2 linked regions of the Homo sapiens genome follow. The protein of the gene in region 1 purifies or fractionates together with the protein of each later gene. This does not show direct contact. Each region holds a gene or a part of one and is shown on either strand. Other genes may lie near its edges. The genes, in order: ASB2 and NT5C2.

Region 1 (3,500 bases):
TGTGGGTGCTTTTCTTAGCTGGTGGTGTGGGCACTGCCGCAGGTAGTGGGCATGTCCTGTGCAGAATGGATGCTCATCATTGCAACAGGGCACTTTCCACATTCAAAAAACCTTCTACAGGGAGGTTTTTCCTGTGTTTTTCCTTCTTCCCTCTCTTCCTCTCACCATCATTCTTGCTCTCTTTTTGGAGTGGCATCCTCAATGTACATCAATAAGTAAATAAATTACCAAGACTTTTCGTTAGGGTCTTAGACTCTTCGGGAGAGATTCACCAAGATTTGGATCAGCAAGAGGCGCTCCATTTCAGATGCAGCCTCAGTCTCCTCCTCTATACAATGGGCACAGAGTGTCTGCTGGCGTGGGAGCAGAGCCAGCTTTGGACAGGTTCAAATCCCTGGTTGTCACCTCCTACAGGGTTATGTAGGGGCAGTCACACCCCTACTCCATACAAAGAGAAGAGCCCTGTCTTGTGGAGTCAGCTGGGGCCTGCAGCCCTGAGCACACCTCTTGAGTCACCTCCAGCAGCCCCAGCCCAGCCTTGGAAGCCCCAAGGCCCTGGCACCCGAAAGCCGGGAGCTTGAAATCAGCATCAAAAGGTCTGAGATGACGCAGCCGGTGGTGGTGGTGGCTGGGGGTAAACTGGAAGCTTGGCCTTTGTGGGTGCTTTCCTTAGCTGATGGTGTGGGTCTGAGCAAAGGCTCAAACTCCTAGCAGCTGTGAGGCCCTAGACACCAGGCCCCAGGGCAGCCAGAGGCTTGAGAGCACTGCCCCCATGGCCAAAGGCCCACCCTGGCTACGACTTGGCCACTCATAGGGGTCAAGGGCAAGGTGGCTGGGATTCCATCCCCCCTTCCTTACCAAGGTCAGAGCATTTCTTAGCCAGAGCAGAGATGAAGCCTCCAGAGGGATGAGGTTTAGGGTCACGGAGCAACTGACTCCTTGCCATGCCCTTAATGTTGTGTCAGAGGGCCTGATGAAGACGGCGCAGGCTGACGTGGTCTCAACCTCTGTACCACATACATTCCAGGCCTTAGTCTCCTCATCCGCGCCATGGGAAGACCACTCTTCTCCCTAGTACTGAAAAAGTAAAATGAGGCAACCTATGAAAGTGGCCTGGATGGAGACAGGACAAGGACCCACAGGCACCAGCTTAATTTTTATTGATTAGGTTCTAAAACAACAGGACCCGGGAAGGGAAGAGAACAATGTCCTACACCTCCGAGCACTCCAGCTGGAAGCGTTTCCTTGGGTTTCCTAGGACCACCCTGGATCCTGGGGGGAAAGGCAGATCAGAAAGATAAGTTTTGGCAGAAGGAGAGAGCATTGCAAGGAAGGAGGTCGAGCGCCCTGGGTGCCAAGGAACAGCCCAGTTCCTGACTCCTCGTGTGTCCCCAGGCTAGCCCAAGCAGCCAGGTTTCAGGATTGCCTTAGCTACGGGTCATGTGATATTTGGGAGACCTTGAAGCTTTTGGAGTAGATTTATAGAAAGTATGTATATGTGTGTATATTATATATATAATATATATTATATTATTAATATAAAAATATATAATTACCTATTATATACTTATATGTTATATGTTATTATGTGTGTATATTATATAATATATATAATACATGTAGCGTGTATGTAGTGTTTTTGAATATGAACACACATACACACACACACATAGTCTTCAGTTTGATTCTGGCCTTCACTCAAATCTTGAAAAACATCCGGTGGTTGCTATTCATTGTGTGGGATGAATACTTGGTGTAAAATCAGATGTAGCCTCTAGTCTCTTCCTTGTCACTTTTTCCCTTAGTGTGCCTCAGTCTCCTCATCTATAGAATAGGAACTATAATACGCTTATAGATTTATTATGTGGTTCAAACTAAAGACAAATATGAGAGAGAAATTCACTGCAAGGGAAGGTGTTATGGTTATGATTCTCCCCATACCTGCTGCAGTGGGACGTAGTGACCTGAGGGTGACACATGGATCTGAACCACAGGCTTTGCATAAGAGCTAAACCTAAAAGGTACAAGTGAACCCTAACCAAAATACTCATGCAGCACTTGCTCTGTGTTCAGCACCATTAAATGAATTACGTGCTCACTAAATGGCTGCTCTTGTCATTTGTTGGCAGTCACCTCGTGCAGAAATTCAAGCCTCCAAAGTCTAGGGCAGCAGATGATGTGAGCAGAGAGGGCAGGGGGACAGGAGGGTTCCTGGAGAGTGGGGAATTTGAAAGGAGTGTGCAGAATCCATCCTGCACCCAAGCTGGCTTCGGGGGAGGGCGTGGAGATCCCCTTCCTCCCCAAGCTCCAGCCCCATGATTGACCCTTGGGACCACCCGGCAGGCTCTGCGCACAGCCCGGGGAGCTGACAGTCACAGCGGCAGTTTTGACCACAGCTGTCACGCGAAGGCTGGGCTTGGGGCTCATTTTCACTTTCACTCTCAATCTTGTTAAATGGAGGAGAGCTTGTGGGAATTCAAATCCCTTGGATGGAGCCTCCTAGAGAACCGCCAGCTGGGCACGAGTTTCAGGTAGCATCCTCCCAGCAGGAACAGGTTTAGGCTGTTTCACCCACTTTCTGGGATCACGGCAGAGAATCGCAGCATCTTGGGACCTGTGGAATAACACGAGCAGATTTTTAGGGGCCACCGGCTGTGTGCCAGGTGCTCCACATTTATACCTGTCACCTAATTTCACCTGACAACACCTCCACAGGCAGGATGCCATTAATATCTTCATTTTATAGATGAGCAAAGTGAGGCACCGAGTAACCTGCTTCACATCACGTGGCCAGGAGGTGGCAGAGCTAGGGTTGAGTATAGGCAGTGGGGCACTCGGGCCGTGCCACCGTCTACCACTGTGCAGTAAACTTCTCCATAACAGCTGTGCTTCCAAGGGCTTGAAGCACTGTCATGATCCTATCGTTCATTCACCCGTCTGTCCAGCATTTATTCAATACCTATTGTGTACCTGACTTTGGGTTAGTTCCTGGGGTTACAACATGAGTGCGACATAGTCCTGCTCCTCAGAAGTTTCTAGACTTTCTAGAGAGACAGGACCATAGCAGGCAGTCCAAGCAGTAGAATGTGAAGGGGGCCCTTGGAGGCAGCAGAGGACTCTCAGCCATCAGGGAGGCTTCCTGGTAGAGGAGATGCTGGAGCTGTTTCTGGAAGGGCACCTTCAGGGCAGGGTAGGCTGACGAGCAGCTCCATCCACAAACACAGCCAAGGATGCTAAGTGGCTTGTGCAGCCTCACATGTCCGACCCAAGTCCCTGGCATGACCCAAGCCTCTGGTGGAGCTTGGTGTGGTGGAGGATGGCTGCCAGCCTCCTTCTTGGCCCCGCCTTCCCAGCTGTGTCTCCTCTAGCCCCCAGTTTTCTGCTAAGACATCTGGAGAGTGACCACCTCCCACCCCAGCCCCTCAAACAACCACATAGACCCACCCCATCCACCGCCAGTTCCCGGGCAGACCCTGGCTGTCTGCAAACCTGGGTTGGTA
Region 2 (4,034 bases), on another chromosome or scaffold:
TAACAAAAAAACCCCCCAAAACATTGAATAATTCTTTGTTGTTTTTTTGGTTGGTTGATGTTGATTCTAAAATTACCATGAACTTTCCATATACACCATATCTTGGTGTTCCTGAATTAAGCTCAGTTTATTGCAACTGAGGAAGACCCACTTACAGGTAAAAAAGGAGATTACTAAAACTGATGGGCAGTAATCACAGGTGGTGCTATTTGGGGCTGTTGGCAAATAGGTACGTGTTTCTCTAATACACTTAACATGATAGAAGCTTGGCAGTTTCCATTTCTGGATTTGATAGGGAATATTTAAGATTAAGAAAATGATGTTTGAGATGCTATCATATATATCCCACATACAGCATCTAATGGAGAAAAATATAAGCCTTCTCAGTTGTCCAAGAAAAAAGACTATGTTTTAGAATGGTACCAGCTGTGTAGTAAGAAGAATGTTTTTTATACCTTGTTTGATTAAGCACTTATTCCTTACAGAAAACAATTATGATTTTCTGTCTGGACGGAGTCAATATTTTTTAGTTGCTTTAGAATTAGTTTTTAAGATTTTACTCACTTTAGCTATATTAGGACATACTTTGAGTTGGTACAAAGCTTGAATTAAATGAGGTTGGTTCATGATGATTAAATACTACTACATAAAATTATTGCCTGTATTACTTTGCATTATCAATAATGTCTTCATTTTCACATAGGGGACTTGTCTTTGACACACTGTATGGAAATCTTTTGAAAGTCGATGCCTATGGAAACCTCTTGGTCTGTGCACATGGATTTAACTTTATAAGGGGGTGAGTACAGAGAACCTTTAGCCTCTTTCTAATGTTAAAGTCAAACAATGTGAAGATGACATCATCTCCCCAGATGTAATATATTTCCCTATTACTTTTCATCATTAAAGAGCAAATTCCCTTACATAAGGTTAGTTAACAGTTATTTATTAGGCAGTTGGAACCCAAACTGACATATAGTTAGCAATTACATTTTGTTTAAATTAAGTGCCTTCCAATTATACAGCATACAACAAAACTAATCTTAAAACTTGCCCAGAAGAACTTTAGTAGTTTTGACTTATTTGAAATTCTAAGATTTTTATTTTCTTCTTTCTAATACAGTTCTCAGGTAGCTGTTCAGAAGAGGTATGTATATAAAAATGCTTTGAAAAAATTTTAAACTATAGCAATTTAAATGATTAAGAGATTTTTAATAGCCAATACGTTTTTTAGATTCTAATGAATCTAAACTTTGAATCCTGACATTTGATTGTGTCATTAAAAAAATGTAAACATAAGGTTAAAGTGAATATGTGCTAATAATATTTTAAACAAATAAGAATAAGCTTTATTTTCAAAATAAAAATATTTCCACTATTGTCACTAATTTGAACTTTTTACCCTAGTAAACAGCAGATGAAATTTAGTATCTACTATTTTTTTGTGAAATGTCCCGATATTTTCAAATCATAATGCCACAATTTGACAACTTCTGTAGCTATAGCTTTACTGTTATACATTTTCTCTACTGTTATGCCACCTTATTTACTATTGACATTGTATTAAGGTCAGAACAACAGCTCGTAAAACCAGAATAGGATGTGTGTCAGTCTCTTATGTAACTTTTCCATTTACTATTCATTCTTGATGGCAGAATAGGAAAAACACCAGGCTACATTGAAATGTTTAAAAAGACAATGTCTTTTTTTGTGATAAGAGGCACAAACCAACTGTAATTGTACCAGAGCTTCCTTTAGATTTGAGGTCACAGGATGCCCCTTAGAATTGAAGCATCTAAGACTCTTTAGTTGGCATTACTGACATTACACAGGCTCAGAGATTTCCATGTATACATGAGAACGGTGTGAAGTAAACACCCATCTTGACACATCTGAGCAGGCCAGTGATTACATCCACATTTCTTTCACTGTTTCTTTCATGAGGGGGTTTGTTCAGGATCCATGAAAATATCAGGAAACAGGATTTAGAATATGAAGTAATTACAGGTTGTACTAGTAACTTAAGCTATTTTATACACAGATATTGTCATCATAACTCAGAATCTCAATGAAGATGAACCAGGGTTCTATTATGTCTAAAAAGGAATTTTTGTATTATAAGGGAGGGGTAGGCAGAGAAGAAAAGAGAAGCAGTTGGATAAGTTAGTACTACGATCAAATTTCCAACTCAAGATCCACAGACTTCCTCTCTTCCCTTAAATAAGCCAATAAAGTTTCCACATAGCTCCTTTGCTAATGCATTTAATAGTGTTTCAAAAATAAGTCATTTATGAGTAAATGCAGAATCATTCAAATAGCACTTAGCACTGTGCAGTCTTTAGAGTTAAACAGAAAAGCTGGCCAGGCACAGTGGCTTACGCCTATAATCTCAGCACTTTGGGAGGACAAGGCAAGAAGACTTCTTGAGCCTAGGAGACCAGCCTGGACAATAAAGTGAAACCCTATCTCTACAAATATCAAAAATTAGCTGGGCATGGTGGTACATGCCTTTGGTCCCAGCTATATGGGAGACTGAGGCAGGAGGAGTGCTTGAGCCCAGGAGGTTGAGGCTGCAGTGAGCTGTGTTGGTGCCACTGTAGTACAGCCTGTGTAACAGAGCAAGACCCTATCTCAAAAAAATAAAAATAAATTAATAAAATTAAAATTCCCATGAAAAGAAGAGACTGAAGATAGAGGGAAAGAAAGTTATCGAAGCTATTACAGTGGTAGACAAGGCTGGAAAAGAAGGACTCCATCAGGCTTTGCTAATGAGTTAGGACCTTATTTTTTGATAAATTTTTATTCTGTGGGTCACAGAAAGTTAGTAGTAATCTGTGCTGTAACTGTTTTCTTCCCATTCCAAGTGTAGCATTTCTTTTATGATATATTACCTCCCCCAAATTGATTTTTATTTTAAATATATACTAGTGTGATTTGACACTGAAGTTTACAATGTAATTGCTAACTATATTTATAAATCAATTTGGGTTCTAACTGCCTAATAAATGTTAACCATCTTTATGTAAAGGAATTTTTCTTTAATGATGGAGGGAATAGGGAAGTATATTGTATCTAAGGAGACAGTGTCAGCTTATTAAATCTAACTGAAGAAAGTATATTTTTACTGTTACCTTCCACCTTACTTTTATTAAAGAAAATCTTGGAAAGCTAGAAGATAAGATACTCTACAAAGTTATTCATTATTGGGAACTCTCATCTCAGAAGAGTGACTTAAGACAGGGAGCTAATGTGATTTTTATATGTCTAACTAGAGTTTATGCCATTTGTAGTTAACAAACCCAGGCAGGAATTAATCCAGGTCACTCTGAGTGTGAGCTTTAAATTTGATTTCCTTTATTTACATTGTTAATCTCCATGTATTCACTGTCAGAACTGTGCATTTTTATATTTTAGTATTTTTCCCTTTGAGTTTCTCTGAAATGTTTTCTTCTAGAAGTGTTTTTGCATCTTTAACAAATTCTGCTTCACTGGCTTTTTTCTTTTAAACCTTGAATTTTCTTCATGGTTCTGTTCTGTCTCTTCTCTTCCTTCTCTGCACACTAAGTGGTTTCATCTCCTCTAATACTTTTCATGATTCCATCTAGTATCTGTACGTAGATGATCTCAGTTATCTCTCAAGGCTGAATCTCTTTTAAGTTCTTGACCTTTGTTTCTAATTGCCTAATAAAAATCAGTTTACTTCAAACTTAGTATCACTAAAATAGAACTACTCTCACATCACTTCTTATCTAGTTTTCATATTTCTGTTCATCGTACCAACCACCTCTCAGAGACACCTTAGCATGGACATCATCATCTTTGACTCTTTAATGTTCCCCCAGCCAAATCTGCTCAGTTTGCCGGGTCTTATTTTACCTTGGTAATCTCTCTTGAATATATGAGTGAGCTGAGATCACGCCACTGCACTCCAGCCTGGCCGACAGAGTGAGACTCTGTCTCAAAAAAAAAAAAAGAAAAAAGAAAAAATTCTGAGAGTCAACTGGGTGATTCTGGGTTGCACAGCTGATCTCTCT

Evidence for each region.
Region 2: the proteins of ASB2 (region 1) and NT5C2 purify together in Homo sapiens (affinity purification with mass spectrometry, with the first as the bait; one large-scale study listed by BioGRID). This does not show direct contact.

What each region holds. Positions count from the first base shown.
Region 1 is NC_000014.9:93,970,071-93,973,570, reverse strand, and holds part of ASB2 (ankyrin repeat and SOCS box protein 2), read left to right. Parts: intron 1-3,500. UniProt on the Homo sapiens protein: Substrate-recognition component of a SCF-like ECS (Elongin-Cullin-SOCS-box protein) E3 ubiquitin-protein ligase complex which mediates the ubiquitination and subsequent proteasomal degradation of target proteins.
Region 2 is NC_000010.11:103,102,471-103,106,504, reverse strand, and holds part of NT5C2 (cytosolic purine 5'-nucleotidase), read left to right. Parts: intron 1-703; coding exon 704-799; intron 800-1,123; coding exon of another isoform or gene 1,124-1,147; intron 1,148-4,034. UniProt on the Homo sapiens protein: Broad specificity cytosolic 5'-nucleotidase that catalyzes the dephosphorylation of 6-hydroxypurine nucleoside 5'-monophosphates.